Regions from separate parts of the Homo sapiens genome. Here region 1 is reported to be linked to region 2. Evidence: microRNA targets listed by miRTarBase, many of them from high-throughput screens and not tested one by one. Region 2 holds a microRNA gene; the other region holds the end of a gene's coding sequence.

Region 1 (5,068 bases), not on the chromosome of region 2:
ATGACTTATGACATCTGCCATGAGTACAGGATGAGGATGAAGAAATGTTGAGTTTTGCACAACCTGATCTGGTCCAACCCTTTCTACTGCAGAGAAATCTGTAAACTTTGTCTAGTCAGACAGTTCTCAGAGGGGGAAAGACCAGAGCAGAGCCCCGCTCTCATTTTGCTCCAAATCATATGTTTTATGGTCCACCATGACGAAATCTCTTGAAGTCCCCATTCCATTCTTCCTATTGATGTTGGCTAATCATACACTTGTTCTCTGCAGAATCCTGGAGCCCCACTCTGCACTGGCCAACCCACAGAGTGCCACAGAGACAGCCTCCAGTGAGCAGTATCTGCACTCTAGGAAGAAAAGTGCCAGGATCCGCCGGAACTGGAGGAAGTCAGGCCCCACAAGCTACCTCCACCAGATCAGACACTGATCCAGGGAAAGAGCCAGGAATGGCAGTGTCTTCCCTCTTGCCAAAAGGCCTGGGGAGGTGAAGGAAGAGAGACTTTAGGCAAGCAGCCCAAAGGGGTAAATGAAAGCAAGAGGCTGCTGCCACTGACCTGCTCCATTCAGAACAAGACTGGATGCTTCTGTTGAGCTCTCCATTATGTGGGACCCATTCCTCACCAAAATGAGGAGAGACAGTGACTGTTCCTGCCACAGTCCTTCCCAGTCTAACACTATTCCTGGGCTGCATGATATTCCCCTGGGAGCAAAGTGACAGGCACTTAGATGCAGCATTTCACCACTCATGCTACTAATCATCTACCTGCTACTACTGTAAACCATGGTTCCAGCAGCCTGTTCCACACCCCCACACCATCAGGATAGCACAGGGAAACTGTAGTTTAAGTGGCAAATAAAAACATTTGCATCAAGAGCTGTGTGAGTCTGTCACAGAAGGGGAGGAAATGAAACAGAGTGGGAGGGGCAAGAGTGTCCCCAGGAAGGAAAAATCAGGGCTGGCCTCCTCTCTCCTTTTCACCTCCCTCTCCTTTTTCACCCCCATGCTGAGCCCCTGGACCACAGCCTCCTTTTCCAGAGTCTGTTGGATCGGGAGTAAAGAGGGGAGTCTCTGCAGCAGTCCTGATCCATAGGATCAGGAGAAGGGGGAAGACTGTCATGGTCAGCCCAGCACAGTAGGCTGAGGCCTTGGGCTGGCTTAATCTGTAGTCAAACTAGTGGTGCCAGATCCTCATTTGGTTTCTTCATCCTTATGGGCTGACCATCCCAAGGTGGACTGATGATTCTGAAGTTGCCTGCGTTATATCCTAGGCTTCCCATGGCCTGGAAACCCTTGAAGGCAGGGTTTTTCCCACAGTTCTGGCTCCACCTCAAGAGAGGCATACTCTGTGCTTATTAGCTTTCTTCTCCCTCTCCACCCACCCTATATGCTTGATTATTCAGGGTTTGAAGTGGGGCAGTGATGTACACAGGGCAGGGCTGCCCTCTGGTGGCCAAGAGGAGGAACCACTACTACCTTGAGTCAGGTAGGTCCTCTTTTTTATTTTATTGTTTATTTATTTATTTATTTATTTTTATTTACTGAGAGACAAAGTCTTACTCCAGGCTGGAATGCAGTGGTGCAATCTCGGCTCAGTGCAACCTCCAACTCCCGGGTTCAAGTGATTCTCCTGCCTCAGCCTCCCAAGTAGCTGGGATTACAGGCGTGTGCCACCACACCCAGCTAATTTTTGTATTTTTAGTAGAGACGAGGTTTCGCCATGTTGGCCAGGCTGGTCTCAAACTCCTGACCTCAAGCAATTCACCCACCTCAGCCTCCCAAAGTGCTGGGATTACTGGTGTGAGTCACTGCACCCAGCCTGTAGGTCCACATTTCTTATCCCAAGCCCTTGGCACTAGATTATTTTGGAATTCAGATTTTTTATTTTTGGCTCTTAGGAAGTAGTCAGCAAATACTGTATAATCCCTAGTAGGGAACCATGTCATAAAATATATTGACATTTCTGCAACAAAGAATCACACTAAAAGGAACACATCATAATTACCCATAGCTTCCTATCAGTGTAAGTTCAGGTCAGGTTTGGTTTCAAATGGGTTATGAAAATACTTTTGGTTTTCAGAGCATTGGGACTTTGGAAATGAGGACCTGGATCATCCTTTATTAGGGAGAAATAGCCCCAGGAGCCACGTCTCAGCAATTCCATGGAAACACAGGTTTCTTTGCCCTCAAAATTCCGTTCCTACCTTCTTTGTCTTCCTTCCCCCAAAGAAACTGGACAAAAAAGGTCAGAACTGTATTTGTTATTCATACATTTGCGTTGATTTAAATACATTACGTACAATTTCTACATTGGATTAGAAGAATGACACAGGGGGCAGCAACACTCTCGCAGCCCAGCCTCCATTCCCTGACACTGGAGGCAGGGCCTATGGCTGGCAGAGGGACGGTGTTCCATGAGTGCCACTCAGAAGCCTCCCCCGGCATTCTGGGCCCCTGGCTCTTCCAGAGTCCACATTCAAGGCAACCTGAGCACAGGCTTGAGGGAGAGTGGAGAAAGGCCAGGAAAGGATGCCCACACTCTTGCCTGCCAGGCCCAGGACCAGCTCTCTCCTACACTGGACCCAATTTCCTTCTGATCACAGAGCTGGTCTGGATCAAGACAATGTGGAGATCTGGTGTGGAGGCTGTGGCCAGGTGAGGCAGCCGGGCTCCCTGTTAGACCCCCAGGCTCTCTTGAGCACCAGATGGGCACTTTACCAACAGGTTTGGGTAAAAATGTCTACAGAGAGCTATGCACACCTGGGTCCCCTTCTGGCTCCTACAGTCAAGGGGCAAGTGTTCTCTCGAACATTGTTCCCAAGGCCAGTGTCCGAGTCAGCTGCATGTGATTGTCGGGGCTGGGATTGGGGCAGGCAGGCGAGCTGTACCTTCGTCCACAGGGCATGCACATCCAGCTCTCAGAAATTCTTCCTGTCAGCCAGGTGGAAGCCCGGGACAAGTGGACTCTTGGTGGCTGGACTGGAAGGGGACCGGCGGGGACCAGCCTGGACCAGCTGACCAGAGGGCTGCACATCTCTGCTCTGCAGCCGGGCAAGCAGAGGACATGCAGCCATAGTCCTCACTCCCTTTCTTTGGTTGTTTTTCAAACCTTCAAGATAGTTACTTTCTGAGGTTGACTGACCAATCGCAAGGTGCCAGAATTGTGAAATGTCCAGTAGCACAGGGCATGAACACAGCTGCCCCTCCAGACACAGATGGCACCCTTTTTACTCCCTCCTGAGGCCGTACTTTGCTTTGGTGTAGAAATGGCTCAAACACCTGGCAAGTGGGGGTGGGGAGTGAGGCAGCAGGGGAAAAGACACATGGAAGCAAGAAGATACGCACTGAGCTGCGCAGGACCTGGGACAGTTTGAAGGCCTCTCTCCTTTGGGCCTCACCTTTCTCAGGGAAGCCATAGAGAAATCGGCCTAGGACAAGTCAGAGAGAAAAGGGAAACTGCCACTTATGAGGCAGAATCCACGTCCTGTTACTTCCACCAAGCAGCAGCGGTAGCACAGAAAAAAGTCCAAGAACCTAATAGCCTGTCCTCTTGGAAGCCAAGACTCATCCCAGAGCCCTTGCAGAGACCCACTCCCGAAGACAAACTGAACTCTTACATCAAAAGAGTTGGGGGGAAAAAATTTAAAACGAGAGGAACAAATGAGAAGATTGGGACCAAGGACTCAGGAAGCAAGGTGGGATATGTTCACCCATAGACCACTTAGCTCCCGGCATACACTCCGGCTGCGTGGATCACTTTTACATGCTGGGAGTCAACTTCCTATTAAAATATAAATGCTAAGACTAGCTCTTCCTGCCTCTGCTTGAGAAACAGACAAGCTGTAGGCCAGCAGAGAGCAGAGAGGTTCTCTATGATTGTGTGCGGAAGTGCTGGCGGGGGTAAAGCAAAAACCTCCCTTCCAGGAGAACTGTTTCGAGGCTTGCAGCCAGCCCACAGCACTGATGGGAGATGGAGGAGGCTTGGCAAAAACCCAAAAGAAAGGTGTGGCTTCTGTCTGTCCCAGTGCTGTGGTACTGCGAGTCATCCAGTTGCCCTCTGACACCACCTTGGCTCATGGGAGGAAGCAACTGCAAGGCAGCTGAATGTCAGGTCTATGCAAATTTAGGCCTGGATTAAAGGTTTCTGACATGAGATGACCCGGGGTTCTGCTACAAGCATTTAAAGTTGTTTTTGTTTTGTTTGTTTTTCTGATGCAGAATATAATAGGGAATTGCAATAGAGCAGGGTTTCAGGGAAGGAAGGGACTGTCCCAGCCTGCTACCAGCAGATGCTGGAAGGGAGATGTTCCTTCCCAGGCATCTGGACTACGTGCATGGAGCTCCAGCCTCCCCCACATCAGAAGGGCGAGGAGCACTCACTGTTCCTGATTGTGCTTCTCCCTGTGGGTGGAAAGCTCTGAGCAGGGTGGCAAGCAGAGAGAGAGGGCTCTTAAAGGTGCTGCTCTCCACCGGCTTCTCTGGCTTTTCCTGCACCCCACTCCCCAGGCTTCCTCCCACCAGTCTCTGACAATATTTCCTCTGCCTGCCTCTGGAGCTACCACCATGAAAAGAAGGGCTTCCGGCTCTGAAAGCTCTGTGTGTAGGACTCGCTAGAAGACCGCTGGTGGGAACGGGCCGTCTCGACAATCACAGGTGGCATCTGGACGAGGTGCAGGGGACTCTTGTTGTCTTTCAAGGCCTGGGTCAGATTTAAGATCTGCAGTGGGAAAAAGGAGATGGGTGAGGGAGAGGCCTCAGCATTCCAGATCTGCCTCTGAAAGGAGATCAGTAGAGAGGACGCCTACAAATCAATTTTTTAAAATACCAATGGAAAATCATGCAAATAGGCCATTTACAAAAGTAAAAATTAGCAAAACAGAAAATGGAAACCTCTCTAATCATTTAAAAAATACAAATGAAAACAAATCCTTTATTTTTTTGCCCTCCAGTTAGTAAAGATACAAAAGAACGACGCAGAGTTGGGGAGAATTCAAAAAAATAAATACTTGCCAGGCACGCTGGCTCACGCCTGTAATCCCAGCACTTTGGGAGGCTGAGGCAGGTAGATCA
Region 2 (5,072 bases):
ATATCCCTTATGTGTGTGTAGCACTTTATAGTTTTTTTATTTCATTTTTTTCTTTTTTTCTCTCCCCCCCCACCTTTTTTTTGTGTGTGTGTGTGACAGGGTCTTGCTCTGTCACGAGGCTGGAGTACAGTGGCACCATCCAAGCTCACTGTAGCCTCCACCTCCTGGGCTCAAGCAATGCTCCCACCTCAGCCTCCCAAGTAGCTGAGACTACAGGCATGTGCCACCACACCCAGCTGATTTTTTTTTTTTTTTTTTTTGAGACAGGGTCTCACTCTGTCACTCATGCTGGAGTGCAGTGGTGCAATCACAGCTCACTGCAGCCTCAACTTCCAAGGCTCAAATGATCCTCCCACCTGAGCCTCCTGAGTAGCTGGGACTACAGGCATGTGCCACCATGCCTGGCTAGTTTTTGTATTTTTTGTAAAGACTGTGTTGCCCAGGCTGGTCTCAAACTTCTGAGCTCAAGCGATCCTCCTGCCTCGGCCTCCTGAAGTGCTGGGATTACAGGCATGAGCTACAGCACTTGGCTAGTTTTATTTTATCAACCAGTTTTCCCTGGAACTGGTTATGGTTGTGGTTTTGCTGCTTATGGATGACAGACCCGAGGTTCAGAGAGGTTCAGTGTCTCTCTCAGCTTCACTAGGAAGAGTTATAGCCAAGCTCTGACAGCAGCAAACCAGATTCTGGCCTGAGGTTCTCAGAATATGCTGCCGTTCCACAGGATGTTGCAATATGGTGTGGCAGGGTGTTACAGTGCACAGGGCTGAAAAGACCAACCTGAGACCCTCCCCTTTCCTTCTGAAGTTATCACTTCATGGACGTTTGCAGCTTTTATCATAAGAGCCATTTGTTGTCGCATGGCTTGTGGCCAACTGGGAGTCTACCTCCATCTAAGGCAGGGCTCTTCTCCCTGCCATGTTGCCCAAGGCTGTTTCAGTAAGACTGTAAGGTTTTCTTCAGCCCTCCTGGCTTTTGACTGCCCCATTCCAACTGGTTGCAAAATAGCTATTTGTGTTTTTGCTGACCTGAGCCATCTTTCTGTCCATTTATACTTCTGATATTCTTACGTGGCAATCAGTATCTAGCAGAATGAATGCCCCATTTTCTAATCCTGCGTTTTCTCAGTTGACTGAGTGGCTTAAGGAGGACAAGTTATTACTGGGCAGTACTCCAAGAAATGGTTCTTTCCTTCAGCATTTACTGTGCATCTGTGCTATGCACAGCTCCTTACTGGATGCTGTGAGGCCACAGGAGGATCTGACAAGGTGGCCTTGCCCTGAGTTGTTTATCCGTGGTTGGGAGAGAGGGAATGCACGTGCTGGACAAAATACATGCTTGCATAGTGACTGGCTAGCGTGGAAGAGTAGTAATGACCTCATTGATCCTGCTTCTGTGCCAGGTGAGATGCTAAATGCATAAACATACACAGGGGGCTGGGCGCGGTTGTTCACACCTGTAATCCCAGCACTTTGGGAGGCCGAGGCGGGTGGATCACCTGAGGTCAAGAGTTCGAGACCAGCCTGACCAACATGGTGAAACCTCATCTCTACTAAAATACAAAAAATTAGCTGGGTGTGGTGGGAGGCTGAGGTAGGAAAATCACTTGAACCCAGGAGGTAGAGGTTGCAGTGAGCCAAGATCGTGCCATTGCACCCCAGCCTGGGCAACAGAGTGAGACTGTATCTCAAAAACAAAAACAAAACACACATAGGGAATTACCGGGGAGTGGCATAGCAGAGTTGAGAGCATGGACCCTGGAGTCAGGCGGACAGGATGGAGTTCAGGCTTAGCCCTGATCAGCAAGTTCCTTAGCTTCTTCAAGCCTTGGTTTCCTCATCTATAAAATGAGGGCAGTAAGACCTTCCTTCCTTGTCTTACTACCCCCATTTTATAGATGAGGAAACCAACCAGTGGGGGCTGTTGGGTAGAGATCAAATGCAATAACTTTTGTACAAATGAAATAACACACGTTCATTCTGTACAAATGAAATAACACATAAACAAATGAAATCACACAGTCATGTGCCTGACACTTGGACACACCGTAATGGTGGCTCTGTTAATGGGACCAGTGATGAACAGTTAGAAGTGAACCCCTTGAGGGTAGAATATGTGAATCCGAGGCCCTGCAAGATGAGGGGACTCTCTCAGGTGGGTGGAGGAGCTGGTCCTCGCATGTGTGATATTTGAGTTCGTAGGAGGCGGGTGCCCCCGGACAGTGGCAATGGGAGTGAGGCCAGGTGATGAGACAGAGGGTGATGCCCCAGCCTCGCTGGCGTGGAGGAAGGCAGTGGGAAGCCGGCAAGGGTGGAGGTTGTGCCTGCATTGATCACTGTGGAATCCTCAGGGCCTAGCACTTGGGAAGCAATGTTGGAGTGTGCTGGTGGGGCGTAGTGAGCATTAGGGCTGGAAGTTCATTCTGTGAACCCCAGCTGCGTGTTGGGATTTGAGACAATAAGAAGCCCCTGAGATGCTTGAGCCAGGACTACCCAGAGGTGAATGGGATTTTTGGAAAACCTCTGGGCGGAGTGGGTGGCTGCCTGGGAATGGGGAGAGGCAGAGGTTGGGTGGGGACTAGCTCAGCAGGGAATGTAACTCAGACATTCCGGAATGATGCAAGTGGAGGTTAGGGAAGTGGTTGCAATGGGAAGGAGGTGGCAAATATAAAGTGTCACAGAAGAAAAGTTGTCATGGGGCCAAGTGGAGGGAGGGATTGGAGAGCTCTAAATTGCAGCTCAATCTTCATCTTGAAATGCAGGATGGAAAAAGCCACCCCATTTATTTAGCTAAAGGGAGCTGACTCCAAGACCTGAGGTCGGGGAAAAGTGGAGAGACAAATAGAAAAGAAATAGGGAATTGGGACAGGGCACCATCTTTCGGGATGGTGGGCTTTTAAGCCCAACTCAGCATTTCCTGAGAAAATTGAGATAGCTTGAGACCAGAGCAATAAGCGTTGAGACTTACCCGGAGAAAATGTTACCCAGAGAGGAGAAAGGGCTGGTAGGGCCTGAAGATTCTTGAGCTGATTTTCCCCAGTTCTTGCCTCTTAGTGCCTCCCATTTCTCCTCATCTGACGGTTTCTGGGTGAGACAGTTGCATCTCATCTGTGGTAGGCTGCCTACTGCTTGGTGAGCCTGGGCTGAAGGGCTGAGGCCTCTGGAAGAGCTGTCAGGAGAGAGACACCTTCAGGGTACTTGGAGCTTTCGCCTTGCTTCCAGGGCGGGATAGGTGGAAGCTGAAACTGCCTCCTAGCAAACAGATTTACACTGATCAAAACAAAGTATTTGTAGGTGTTAGAGTTAAGAGGTTGAGGTTTTCCGTTGGATTTTTTAGGTGCATGGTGGAAGAGGTATTTTAGACGAAGGATTCTCCTAGCAGACACAAAATATGAATTAAGAACACTTGTTTCTGTTTTTCTCCCAACTACTTCTTGATATTCATAGTTCCTGGTGCTGGGACTTTGGAATGGGTTTTGGTGTGCAGAAAAGACAGGGCATTTGCTGCCAACAGGGGACATAATTGAGACTAAATTCACAAGATAAGGGATGGTATGATTTACCTTCCAAGAAAAGATCTGTGTCTGGTCCTGTATCTGGCTTCTTTCTTTATTGCTTTTGCAGTTCTGAATCAGTTTTCTTTCCCCGATGGCTAGCTTCTCCAGCTGGAGAGAACACACAGTTTAAAGAGGCTTTCCCCCCAGGGCCAGATTAAGGATACTTCTGGGCTAAAGGGCAAATGCAGCCATTCCTAGCAGATTTATGGCCCCGAAAGGACATTTCGGCCACTGCATCTGCGAGATTTTTGTCCCACATCAGCTAGCCCAGCAGCGTAAGCCCAAGGGTTTAGTCATTGACAGAGTCCAACCAAGGGGTCTCTGTGGAACCCTGGGCTTGAATGGGCTGGAGTTCTACCCTCCCATTGAAATCATTTGAGATGGTAGAGTGCCTTCCATGCTGAAAACAGGTCTCATGTAACAGTTACTGATGGGGCCAAGGAAGCCCAGGTATGACCTAGGTAACTCCTCAGAGATGCTACTGTTGAACCTAATAGTCTTCTAGCAGGTTACCAAGCGGTAATCCAAAGAGTTAGTGTTTAACTTAAAAAAAAAGGTATTCAGTTTAGCTATGTAATACTTGCACCTTGTACAAACATTGAAATGTATGAGTCTCCTTTTTCCTCTCTCCCCAGTAACCCAGTCCCCTCCCAGGAGGCCACTTCCGGTTAAATTATCTTGTCTGTCCTCTTGGAGGTGGTCTGCCCTTTGAAATAGAAACATATTTCCTTTTTTCTTTTTCTTTTTCTTTTTTTTTTTTTTTTGAGACAGAGTCTCGCTCTGTCGCCCAGGCTGGAGTGCAGTGGCGTGATCTTGTCTCACTGCAAGCTCCGCCTCCCGGGTTCACGCCATTCTCCTGCCTCAGCCTCCTGAGTAGCTGGGACTACAGGCAACTGCCACTATGCCCGGCTAATGTTTTTTGTATTTTTAGTAGAGATGGGGTTTCACCGTGTTAGCCAGGATGGTCTCTATCTCCTGATCTTGTGATCCACCTGCCTTGGCCTCCCAAAGTGCTGGGATTACAGGCGTGAGCCACTGCGCCCGGCTACAGAAACATATATCTATTGTTTGTTTCTCCTGTGCCCTTTCTGCTCCATGCCCTTTTCATTTATCAGTGTATCTTGGAAATCGTCCGATGTCAGCACAAATAAAAAGTCTGCAGTACTCTGTGTGCCATTGCATGTTTTTTTTTCTTCATTTTGCCATTTGTTTATTGCAAAATCCCACACTTAACAGAAGACATGTTTAAAACATATGAGTATGTTAAAACAAAATAGTAAAATGAACATCTATGTTCCCATCCCTAGGTTAAGGTTAGGACCATATAAGCCCCCTATGTTCCCTCCCCGGTTGAAGTCCCTTCCCTCAGCTATTCCTTTTTTTTTTTTTTTTTTTTTTCTTGAGATGGAATCTTGCCACTCTGCTGTCCAGGGTGGAGTGCAGTGGTGCCATCTCGGCCCACTGCAACCCCTGCCTCCTGGGTTCAAGTGATTCTCCTGCCTCAGCCTCCTGAGTA

The links. The annotated mature microRNA hsa-miR-3163 reads UAUAAAAUGAGGGCAGUAAGAC and lies in region 2 at 1,842-1,863, shown strand. An mRNA with a match to its seed (bases 2 to 7 or 8) in the 3' UTR can be bound and repressed. Matches are read on the target gene's strand: a 7mer-m8 pairs with bases 2 to 8, a 7mer-A1 pairs with bases 2 to 7 and ends in A, and an 8mer does both.
Region 1: the mRNA of AVPI1 is a reported target of hsa-miR-3163. The part of its 3' UTR that is shown has no 7-base or 8-base seed match.

What each region holds. Positions count from the first base shown.
Region 1 is chr10:97,673,228-97,678,295 of GRCh38, reverse strand. It overlaps AVPI1 (arginine vasopressin induced 1), which reads left to right. Exons shown (of 3, transcript NM_021732.3): 3 at 271-872. The coding sequence ends at 427. PI4K2A (phosphatidylinositol 4-kinase type 2 alpha) reads right to left here. Exons shown (of 9, transcript NM_018425.4): 9 at 1,862-4,715. The coding sequence ends at 4,554. Among named protein-coding and RNA genes, the nearest start is that of AVPI1, 11 kb to the left of the region's middle. RefSeq lists enhancers at 1,132-1,201, 2,019-2,518.
Region 2 is chr11:66,931,267-66,936,338 of GRCh38, reverse strand. It overlaps MIR3163 (microRNA 3163), which reads left to right and starts at 1,833; the gene lies at 1,833-1,905. All of the region lies in intron 3 of PC (pyruvate carboxylase), which reads left to right.